Regions from separate parts of the Homo sapiens genome. Here all the other regions are linked to region 2. The links come from fine-mapping of genetic effects on gene expression. A gene starts in region 2. Each other region holds a variant in brackets. All regions are shown on one strand. Distances are between the middles of the regions.

Region 1 (2,743 bases), 120 kb before region 2:
CACCTCCATGCGCAGCTCACTCTTCTCCTTCTCCAGCTTCTGCCGCACCCGCTGCAGGCTGTCCACCTGCTCCCCCAGCTCCGCCGCGCCCTCCGCCTGCTTGCGCCGCAGTGCCGCCACTGTGGCCTCGTGCCGCAGCGCCGCCTCCTCCAGCTCCCGCCGCAGCCTCCCCAGCTCCGCCTCCCGCTTGCGGCAGCCCTCGCGCTGCCCCGCGGATGCGCCGCCTGCCTCCTCCAGCCGCTCGCTCAGCTCCTCCAGCTCCCGCGCCGCCTCTGCACGCTGCTTCTCCACGCGGGCCCGGGCTGCCCGCTCTGCCTCCAGCTCCTCTTCCAGCTCCTCCGCCCGAGCCTGGGGTGGGCACGTGGGGCAGCTGTCACCTCTGTGGGCCTCTGACCCCAGGCCTCACCCACCCGATCCCCACGCACCTGCAGCTCCTTGATCTTCTTCTGCATCTGGGCCCCCAAGAGCTGCTCGTCTTCCACCCGCAGGCTCAGCTGGCTCAGCTCGGAGTCCTTCCTGGGAGCCACAGAGTGGGTGGCCAGCACAGGCCTTAACTCCCACCCACCCGCCTGGGACCCCATAACGCCCCCCAGTCCCCTTCAGGCCCTGAGGGACCTCACCCCATGCACCTGCTGCACTGGGCCCTGAGGCCTCAGCCCTGGACCCTGGCTAGGGCCCTCAGTACAGGGAGGGCAAGACACTACCCCTGCACCCCAGTGCCCCATCTGTCAACCCCCACCCTTAACCTCTGCAATGCCGCAGGAACCACAAGAATCCAGAAGGGAACAAGGGCCAGGTGCAGGCTCAGAAGGCCCCCACCTGCTGCCCCACCACACCTACTTCTTGAGCTTCTCCTCCAGCTGCTGCTTGTCTTGAGCAGCATCAGCCACCGACTCCTGCGTCAGCTTCAGGTCACCCTCCAGCTTGCGCTTGGCCCGCTCCGTGTCCATGCGCAGCTTCTTCTCCTGCTCCAGGGAGCATTCCAGCTGCAGAGCAGGCACAGCAGGGGTCAGCCATGGCCCAAGCCAGCCGGCACCCCGGCCCCGCCACCCAGTCTCGGGGTGGCCCTGACTCACGTCCTCCACCTGTTGCTCCAGCCGGAGCTTGGCCTT[G/A]GTCAGCGCGCTCACACGGTCCTCCTCGGCCTGCAGGTCACCCAGGGCCTGTTGGTGGGCCTCCTGCAACGCCTTCTTCTCCTTGGTCAGCCGGGCCACTGACTCGTCCAGCGCAGCCATCTCTTCCGTCAGGTTCTTCACCTGTGCCAGGGCCAGGGCCAGAATGGGGACGCCCTTCCCCGCACTCTGAGCGGCCACCACACCACACCAGGTCAGAGCAAGTGCCCCTTCCAGCTATGGGACTCAGGCAAGTCACTTGACTCCGAGCCTCCACCGCTTCTGCCTGAGGGAAGGACCCTCCTCATGGGGTTGTAATGAGGATTCACGAGTGGATGCACCCGCAGTGCTCAGCACCACACCTGGCCTGGTGAGAAATCCACAGATGCCAGCCATGTGCAGTATTAGCATGTGCTCAGGGCAGCTGCCTCCTAGTCCCGGCTTCCTCAGTGAGCACCTGTGAGAACCTAAGCTGCCTACCCCTGCCTCACTTTCCCTCCTGTGTAATGGAGTCCCTCCTCCAGCACTGGGAACCACAGGGGCCATCACGAGGGCTCAAGGGCAGAAGTCACCTGCGGGATGCCGAGCTGGGGACATGGAGTTCCTGCCCTCAAGGGGCTTGCACTCCGGGATGGATGAGGATTGCCAGCATGTGCTAAACACCTACCGTGTGCAAGGCCTAGGAGCGTGTGCTCAGTAAAGGCCAATTACACACATCACCACCTACCCTAATGGGGTAAGTGCTGCTAACCCCACTTGACAGATAAAGAAACTGAGGCCCAGGAAAGGCAGTGACATGCCCAGGGCCAGAAAGCAGAGGCTTAGCAGAGCCGGGGTGGGACCTGCAGCCACCTGGCCCCAAAGCTGGCCCCTGGCTCAGGGCCCTTCCCCACAGCTGGCCCGGCCCACACCTTGTTCTCAGTGGCTTGCTTCTCCTTCTCAGCTTTGGCCAGTGTCAGCTCCAGGTCATCAATGTCCTTCTTGAGCTCCGTGCACTCGTCCTCCAGCTTGCGCCGGCGGGCGGCCAGGTCAGCGTTCACCTCCTCCTCATCCTCCAGCCGCTCACTCAGCTCCTTCACCTTCCCCTCCAGCTGCACCTTGGACTTGATCAGCAAGTGGCAGCGCTCCTCGGCATCTGCCAGGTTGTCCTGCTCCTGGAGGGCACACGGAACGGGGCCAGGTTGGGGGAGGGCCAGGTAAACCAGCAGAGAGACACCAGGCCAGGCCCTGGAGAGGAAACTGCCTCTGTAGCAAAGTTTGGCTGTGCTCTGAGAACTCAGGAATGTCTTGACTCGCTCTTGGGCATGGAAGGGCAATAGCGCAGAGGGACACACCAGAGCATTAAGAGGGGAAAGTTAGAAGTGCGGGGCGGCCCAGAGTGAGGCCCAAACAAGGGTTCTGAGAGGGAAGCCCGCTGCTCACTGCCCCGCTGTTGGGCTGAGGCCTTCCGAGGGGCAGGGTGAGCAGCAGCAGCCTCTGCACAGCCACGGACGGGCTCCTGGAGGCAGTCCCTGGAAGGGCTCAGGTATCCTTACCCCCCATTTCCTTACTGTCCAGCTGCGTCACAGTCTCCTGCACTAGCAGGTGAGTTTTGTGACCACAGGGCCATCTCTGTCTTCCCACCAACGTTCCTC
Region 2 (2,743 bases):
GAGGGAATGAATCTACCAGATTAAGGCAATGATGATGATGATGATGATGCCATTTATTGAGTAGGTGCCAAGCCCTATACTAATCGCTTTCCATTCTGTTACTTAATCCTCATGACAACCCTCTAAAATGGGTACTATTATTCTTTCCATTTCACAGATGGGGAAACTGATAGAGAGACTAATTGTCTTGCCCAAGATTACACAGTGTTTGAGCGGTGGCAGAATAGAACCCAGACATCCAGAATATGGAGACCTATTCCCCACCTTGCCCCACTCCTGCCCTACCATCACTACCACCACTCCTTCTTTCTCAAAGTGTCCTTTCCAGAACCACATCAAAAACTCTTAAAATGATGGTAAATATTCAGGTTCCAAGGACCTCATCCCAGCCTACTGAATCATGATCTCTGGAGTGGAATCTGGGGATCCGCTTTCAAAGATCCTAACACACACTAAAGTTTGAGAATGCGGTTGAAAGAGGAGTCAGAAGTGTCGGGGTGCGGGAAGGGATCTGAGGTCAGAGGAGGGATCTGTTGTCCAAAGAGGCGTCTGCAGTCAAAGAGGCCTGGAGATGAAGCATGGGCTGGGGTTTTCAAAAGGGTTTGGGGGTGAAGACAGAGTCTGAAGTCGAAAAAGAGGTCTAAGGTCGGAGGAGGAGTCTAAAATCGGAGGAGGAGGATCTCGGAATTCAAGGAGGGGTCTGGGGTCCGAGGAGTTTGGGGTCAGAGACAGGATCTGGGGTCGAGAGGGATTTGCGGTCAGTGAAAGGGTCTGGGGCCCGAAAAGGAAGCCTGGGATTTGAGGAGGACACTAGCTGTATTCAGGCTGGAAGGAGGAAGGGGTTTGGTCCCTGAGCTGCGTAAAGTGCAGAGCCACTGAAGTCTCGCTTGCCCCGCGCTCTCCCCTCGACCCTGCGCTGCCTTCCTGGCTGTCCATCTACACGCACCTGTGTGCCAGCTGCAGGCTGATAGCGCTGAGCAGACGGGGGCGAGTCAGACCGGGACACGGCCGAGGGCTGGGAGAGGCGCCCCCTCCCGGCTGTCGCGAAGATCAGGCCCCGCCCTCCGCCCTCCCACTCCCCCGCCGCAGCCACTTCCGGCAGGCGCTGCGCTGCTGGGGGGCGCGGGCGAGGATGGCGGCGGAGAACGAGGCCAGCCAGGAGAGCGCCCTGGGCGCCTACTCGCCAGTGGACTACATGAGCATCACCAGCTTCCCGCGGCTGCCCGAGGACGAGCCGGCGCCCGCGGCCCCGCTGAGGGGCCGCAAGGACGAGGACGCCTTTCTGGGAGACCCCGACACCGGTGAGGCCCGCTGACCCCGTCCCTGCCCTGCCTTGGGAAGTCCCCGGTCTTCCTTCTTCTGTGTCAAGCATCCACCTCCAGCTCCATCTCCTTAATTCATCCCCATCTTCTTGGATCTCTCCCTTCTTCTCCCTTGTCTCTGTTAATTATTTGGTGAGGAAGGGGGTGCATTTCTGCCTTGGAGGCGTAGGATGCGACAACGGAGAGGATGCTAGGGACTGCAGTAGAAGGGATTGGGCTTACCTTCTGGGAAGAACCAACTAACGATGAAGGAATGTTGAAGGGGAGATCCTAAGGAACCGCTGTGATCACCCAGAAGAGGGCTTTCTCTAGCCACAGAGGACAGGATAGGAGAAACCAAGTCAGAGACTGCAGCAAGAGGGATCCAATCTGTGCCTTAAGAGAAGTTCCCCACAGCCAGGGATTGTGAGAAGCAGAGGGTCTGGGAGAAGCGGAGAATCTCTTCATGTCTAGGGAGGGGTAAAGAGAATATGATTCCCCTCTGTTGGGTGTTGGGAGACGGAGGCATGGACTGCATGACCTCTCAAAAGTCCTTGGGGACTAGAACGCCTTCACTCTCCTGTGGATTACCCCACCCCTCCCTGAGCCATGGATCTGGCCGGGGTATTAGTAAGGTACTCTGCTCCCTAGGAAGCAGTCTCCAGAATTTTACTGTGTTCCCCTCAGCCCTCTGCTGGAATTGTGAGAAGTGGGGGTAAGAGAAGGAGGAGACAGGGATTGGAAGAGACCTGGGGGCAAAGAGCTCTCTGTGCATTCCTTCCCTGCTGCTCTTCCTCCTAGCCATGTGGCCCAGCTTCATCCTCCCCTCCATTCTTCATCCTTCATCCCCCATCCCTCTGTCCCTGCACGTCACTTCCTGGCATTAGAGCATCCTTCTACCTCACTCTCGCTTCCTCGCAGTGCCTGCACTTGAGCCTTGTCTCTTACCAGCCTGGCAGATGCTGCTTTTCCGGCTTGGCCCTTCCCTAGCTGCTCCCAGCCTGAAAGCCCCAAATTCTCTCCTCCTCTACACTTTCTGGTCATCTGGCCCTGACCAGCAGCCCTTGCCAACCTGACTGGACTGCACTCTGTATGGGGTGGGGGTGAGGAGATAATGAAGATGGAGTTTAGAGGTTTATGGGCGTCAAATGTCAGGGCTGCGGATCAAAACTTATTTTCCAAAGGGAGTGGAATCAGGAGGTAGCAGGGAGAGGAGTGGGAAGATGTGTCATGATGGATATCAGCCTGAAGCTAGGCCTTTTATTCAGTAGTCAGGAGTGAGACTTCTGGTCCTAATACAGCCCTGACTCACCAAGCGACAACAGGCACACCTACCCTGTCCTGGGCCTTAGTTTCCTCTTCCAGCTCAACAGAGAATGCCTGTCTCTCTTGACCTAGAGATTGGAACTGCCTGACATGTTTTCTTCTGGCCCTCTGTAAAT
Region 3 (2,743 bases), 50 kb before region 2:
CTATACTCATTCCTGCCCTTACAGTCTTTGTAGCTCTGCGTAGAAACCAGATACTGACATGTAGGACACATTCTTCTCTAATTTTCTTTACCCCTAACCAACTGATATAGTTTGGATGTTTGTCCCTTCCAAATCTCATGTTGAAATATGATCCCCAGTGTTAGAGGTGGGGCCTGGTGGGAGGTGTTTTGGTCAAGGCCGGGGAGGTGGGGGGGGCGGGGGGGACAGATCCCTCATGAATGGCTTGGTGCTGTACTTGCAGTAACTCTATGAGTTCATGTAAGATCTGGTTGTTTAAAAGAGGCTGGTATCTCCTCCCTCTCTCCCTTGCTTCCTCTCTTGCCATGTCAAACACTGGCTTTCCCTTTGCTTTCTGCCGTGATTGGAAGCTACCTGAGGCCTCACCATAGGCAGATGCCAGCACCATGCTTCCTGCACAGCCTGAAGAATGATGATCCAAAATAAACCTCTTTTCTTTATAAATCACCCAGTCTCAGGTATTATTTTATAGCAACACACCAACTCTTCCTGAAAATGGAAGTGGAAGGTACATGTCTTAGTGGGAGGTGCAAGAGGGGGATAGCTAAGGCTCACCATCTCCTGTAACATAGTATCCAGGAAACTTCTTAAAGTAGGTTGTCTCAAAGCGTTCGTGGTTCCCATAGACTGTGCGCATGATCCCTGGCCAGGGCTGCTTGAACACCTGGGGAGTGAGGAAGGGACAGTGATCACATTTGCTATGCTGTCTCACTGGAAGATAATTACAGCTTTTCTAAATGTGGGGGAAAGTGTCCTGAATGAAGTACAGGCTTTGGAGACAGAGGATCCTGGCTTGGAATCCCAGCTCTACCACTTACTAGCTAGGTGACCTCAGAGAAGTAACTTTACCCCTCTGAGCTTCAGGATCCTCATCTGTAAATCAGAGAAAATACTTTCTGTCTTCCAAAGTTATTGTGAGGATTAAATTAATAGTATATGGAAATTGCCTAGCACGGTGTTCTATTATTGATAAGTGTTTAGTAAATTTGTGTCTCCTTTTGGGCAATCCTTGAGGAAAGCAGGTCCAGTTTGATACAAATGAAAACACTCATTTAAAAAACAGTGGTGCCCACACACCAAGTAAATAATTATTGCCCAATCAGTAACATTCTTTGGCAGCAGATCGATGGAATGGATGGAATTCTAGGCTGAGTCAGAAGGCCTGGATGTAAGCCCTGTCCCTGTTACTAACTTGCTCTTGGGAAAGTGAAATGGGGTGGGGTTGAAGGGACAGGTGAGGCTCCTGCAAGTATGAATACAATAATCACAACAGCTAATGTTTATCAAGTACTAATTGTTAGTTTCTCTGCTAACCCCTTCATGTGGATTATCTAACTCAATCAAGCAAGCAACCATAGGAGACAAAGGCATTATTTTTTTCTGAGACGGAATTTTGCTCTTGTTGCCCAGGATGAAGTGCAATGGCACAATTTCGGCTCAATACAACCTCCACCTCCCCGGTTCAAGTGATTCTCCTGTCTCAGCCTCCCGTGTAGCTGGGATTACAGACGTCCACCACCACGCCCAGTTACTTTTTGTATTTTTGGTAAAGACGGGGTTTCACCATGTTGGCCAGGCTGGTCTTGCACTCCTGGCCTCAGGTGATCCGCCCACCTCAGCCTCCCAAAGTGCTAGGATTACAGGTGTGAGCCACCGTGCCCGGCCAGAG[A/G]CACCACTTTAACCCTATTTTACAAATTAGAAAATGTAGATTCAGAGGTGTTAAATAACTTATCTGAGGTCACAGAAGAGGCAGAGCTAGGATTCGAACCCAGGCAGGGTGACTCCAGATCCTACGTGATTTTCTACTATGTTATAAAGCCTCCTTTCTGTAGAATCTTTGTCAAAAGAAGATGGGACTTAGTCTTCCAGACCCAAAAAGGTACCATCAGGAATCTGAGCAACTCTTAAAACGCCCTTAGGAGACTTATGGCCCAAAAGGAAGAGATGCAGGCAAAGTATCGAGGGTCCCCTCCAGGGTCTCTCAGTGAGCAAACCTCCAACCATGAAGTTTCAGTCCTAAGCAGCTACCAGGAGAGATTAGGTTATTAACTCTAAAGCAAAGTACCCTTGGCAGACCCTTTCCCTCTCTCCTTAAAGACTCCCAAGGGCCAGGGCCTCACCAGATAACCTTCAGCTTCACCTTCCAACTCTTCCCCGGACTCATTCAGGATTGCAGGAGCTACACCAAAGAATGGGAAAGTCTAGAAGCAAACGGGAGACAGAACCCAAGAAGAGGAATGAGGCAACTCTGACTCAACTCCCAAGGGGCCCCAGAACCCCAAATTCTTCACACATGTCAGTCCAGTTCTCCACTATCTAACTAGGCCAAGTGCCCCAAGACACCATCCCTGCCTAGCCCAAGACCAGCCAGGGAAGCATCACTCACAGCAGAACCGGGTTTCATGGGTGTGGCACCAGGAAGGGGAGTCAACATGTGGCCACCCTGGGGAAGTCAGAGATGAGAAATTTGAGTCAATCTTCCCACATTGTCCCTGGGCCCCAGCCTTCTGTACCCTTCACTCACTGTCTCTGTTTGCCAGAAGGTGTCCACGATGGGGCAGCGCTGGGCACCTACCACCCGGTGGTACCATAGCCAGGCCTCAGGGTTGATGGGTTCACCCACTGTGCCTAACACCTGCAAGGATGCCCGGCTATGCCTGGGGCAGGGGAATGGGAGAGAGGAAGGCTCTGAGTACTACTGGAA
Region 4 (2,500 bases), 76 kb before region 2:
TTTCTCTTCCACGCTTTTGTTTCTTCTGTTAATCAATAGGTACCATGTGAAGATCCAACACTTGGTCTTTCTGGGAGGTTATGGAGCCTAGAAAAGGCGTAATCCACAATGAGATTTCTAATCCAGAAAAAAAGTCAGAAAGTGTACGTGTGTGTGTATGTGTGTGTGTGTGTGTGTGTGAGAGAGAGAGAGAGAGAATGATTTTACTCCAAATCTTTACCAAATGCCTGCTCTATGCCGGGCCATTGTAGGCACTGAGGACAGAGAGGTGAGTCAGCCAGAGCCCTAGCCTCTGGGGCTCCTGGTCTAGTTAGAGAACATACCACAAAACAAAATTAAATAACATCAGCTCTATGAGGAAACACAGGCAGTCTGCTACACAAAGTTAACTATCATTTATTGAGTATTTAGTATGTGCCAGGCATTATTCTAAACACTTTGGAATCACTGACTCCTCACCACAACAGAGATAAGGAAACCGAAGCCCAGAGAGGCTAAGTAACCTACCTGAGGTTATTTAAATGGTAAAATAATTGGCAGAGCCAGGATGTGAACCCAAGGAATTTGGCTCCTGAGTCCATGCTCTGAACATCCATGCTTTTTTTCCTCTCCCAAGATACTATATAGGACAGCTGGAAGAAAGAGTAGTTCATTATGATTAGATGATTGAGATGGGGGGTGGTATTTGAACTAGACCTTAAAAGACAAATAGGGAAAAGGAACAGCATAGCAAGGACCCAAAAGTAGGAAAAGGCAAAAAAAAAAAAAAATGTTCAAGAGAATGCAGCTGAAATGCAGGGCGCATAAGTGGATATAGTGGGAAAGAAGGCAGGCCAGCGTCAGACAGCCGCGGGGCCTTAGCTACTGGGTGGAGGAGGAGTATGAACTTTATCCTGTAGATCAGAGCTGCAAACTAGCCATATCTAGGCTGAGTATTTGGCTCCTGCAGTGTTTGGGGAGTTAATTTGTTTTTTACAATAAGTAATACGTTCAAATACATTTGAACAGGGCGCAAAATTCAAAAGGGTATTCAGTACAGAGTAAGTCCCCTTCCTCCAGCCACTGTTTCCCTGACCAGGGGCAAGCATTGTTAACAGTT[G/T]TTTTCACCAGAGTATTTTTAAAAAGTCAGAGCCAACATTTAAAAAAAAAAATCATGAAATTAAAACAAAAAATCTAGCAACCCAACTTGTCTTGAAAAATTATATCATCTGGCAACTCTGGCCTACTTTCCTGCATGGCAACAATTGGCTAGAGCAGAGTTCTGGCTGCCCCCTTTAGAGAAGATGCAAGTACTTCTTTTTGCCACAATTCCTATCACTCCCTGTTGCTTCCTGGCTACAAAGCAGAATTTTGTCATGCACGTGCTATAGGTTTTTTTAAATAGTAGAAAAATGTTTCTTTTTTTTTTTTTGAGACAGAGTCTCACTCTGTCGCCAGGCTGGAGTGCAGTGGCACGATCTCAGCTCACTGCAACCTCTGCCTCCTGGGTTCAAGCGATTCTCCTGCCTCAGCCTCCAGAGCAGCTGGGACTACGGGTGTGTGCCACCACGCCCAGCTAATTTTTGTATTTTTAGTAGAGATGGGGTTTCACCATGTTGGCCAGGATGGTCTCGATCTCTTGATCTTGTGATCTGCCCGCCTCGGCCTCCCAAAGTGCTGGGATTACAGGCATGAGCCACCGTGCCCGGCCAGTAATGTCATTTTATGTTAATGTCTCTATCAAAAGTGAGAAGACTGTGTGTTTCAGCCTTTAGCCTGTAGATAGCAGAGAACAGCTATAAACTATTGATCCTAAATTCAGGAGGGCATAATGAGCCCTGGGACAGAGGCAGAGGGATGTCTTAGCAGAAAAACTCTGAGTTTTTGAGGCCAAGATGAGACTTGTTGGGGGCAGCAGAGCTCTATGTGTTCAAGCCAAGGAAATGCTCCTGTAGTCATCACATAGCTACTCAGGGTATTAGGTCACCCCTTATGTAATCTGCAGTCATTCCCATTCTAACTCATAAAGGCTTCAGACTGAATAAACCTTATTCTCACAAATAGCCTTCCTCAGTTTTATCTTAGATGCTGAGGCCAGGGCAGTGGTACACACCTGCAGTCTCAGCTACTGGGGAGGCTGAGACAGGAGGATTGCTTGAGCCCAGGAATTTGAGGCTATAGTGCACTATGATGGCACCTATGAATAGCCACTGTATTCCAGTCTGGGCAACATAGTAAGACCCCACTCCAAAAAAAAAAAAAAAAGATGCTGAGAAGGGTAATTTAGAAATTATCTACCAAAATTTAAAATAGATTTACCTGAATTACTTGATATTTTTACTTTTAGAAATTTAGAATGTATGGACTTTCTCATATATGAAAATATCTAGAATGTATATTCTAGGATACCCATTGAAACATTAATGGTAATAGGAAAATAAAGAAACCACCTATATACTAGATTCAATAAATTATGGTATATCCTAAGAGTAGAATAATATACAGCAATTAAAAATAATGA

Direction of the effects. Alleles are on the strand shown, and positions count from the first base shown. SD is a standard deviation of normalised expression in the study named. Not every link is listed here.
With allele G in place of A in region 1, the expression in unexposed skin of the gene that starts at base 1,092 in region 2 is lower (small effect, 0.19 SD a copy in GTEx).

What was found. PIP is the estimated chance that this variant, and not a neighbour inherited with it, causes the effect. A credible set is the group of variants that fine-mapping cannot tell apart.
Region 1: its variant is the best candidate, but not a certain one, in a credible set for the expression of GGT7 in unexposed skin (GTEx, PIP 0.57).
Region 3: its variant is the best candidate, but not a certain one, in a credible set for the expression of GGT7 in whole blood (INTERVAL, PIP 0.54).
Region 4: its variant is the best candidate, but not a certain one, in a credible set for the expression of GGT7 in lung (TOPMed, PIP 0.61).

The regions. Positions count from the first base shown.
Region 1 is chr20:34,994,856-34,997,598 of GRCh38, reverse strand. MYH7B (myosin heavy chain 7B) reads right to left here. Exons shown (of 45, transcript NM_020884.7): 28 at 2,021-2,263; 29 at 1,077-1,253; 30 at 841-986; 31 at 426-516; 32 at 1-348. Among named protein-coding and RNA genes, the nearest start is that of MIR499B, 5.8 kb to the right of the region's middle. The variant G/A (reference allele first, on the strand shown) is at 1,113.
Region 2 is chr20:34,871,205-34,873,947 of GRCh38, reverse strand. It overlaps GGT7 (gamma-glutamyltransferase 7), which reads left to right and starts at 1,092. Exons shown (of 15, transcript NM_178026.3): 1 at 1,092-1,301. The coding sequence starts at 1,133. RefSeq lists a silencer at 921-1,210.
Region 3 is chr20:34,921,283-34,924,025 of GRCh38, reverse strand. It overlaps ACSS2 (acyl-CoA synthetase short chain family member 2), which reads right to left. Exons shown (of 18, transcript NM_018677.4): 11 at 2,564-2,696; 12 at 2,426-2,482; 13 at 2,160-2,240; 14 at 595-703. Among named protein-coding and RNA genes, the nearest start is that of GSS, 33 kb to the left of the region's middle. RefSeq lists an enhancer at 1,987-2,743. The variant A/G (reference allele first, on the strand shown) is at 1,709.
Region 4 is chr20:34,947,694-34,950,193 of GRCh38, reverse strand. The region is part of intron 2 of GSS (glutathione synthetase); the gene reads left to right. Among named protein-coding and RNA genes, the nearest start is that of GSS, 6.9 kb to the left of the region's middle. The variant G/T (reference allele first, on the strand shown) is at 1,100.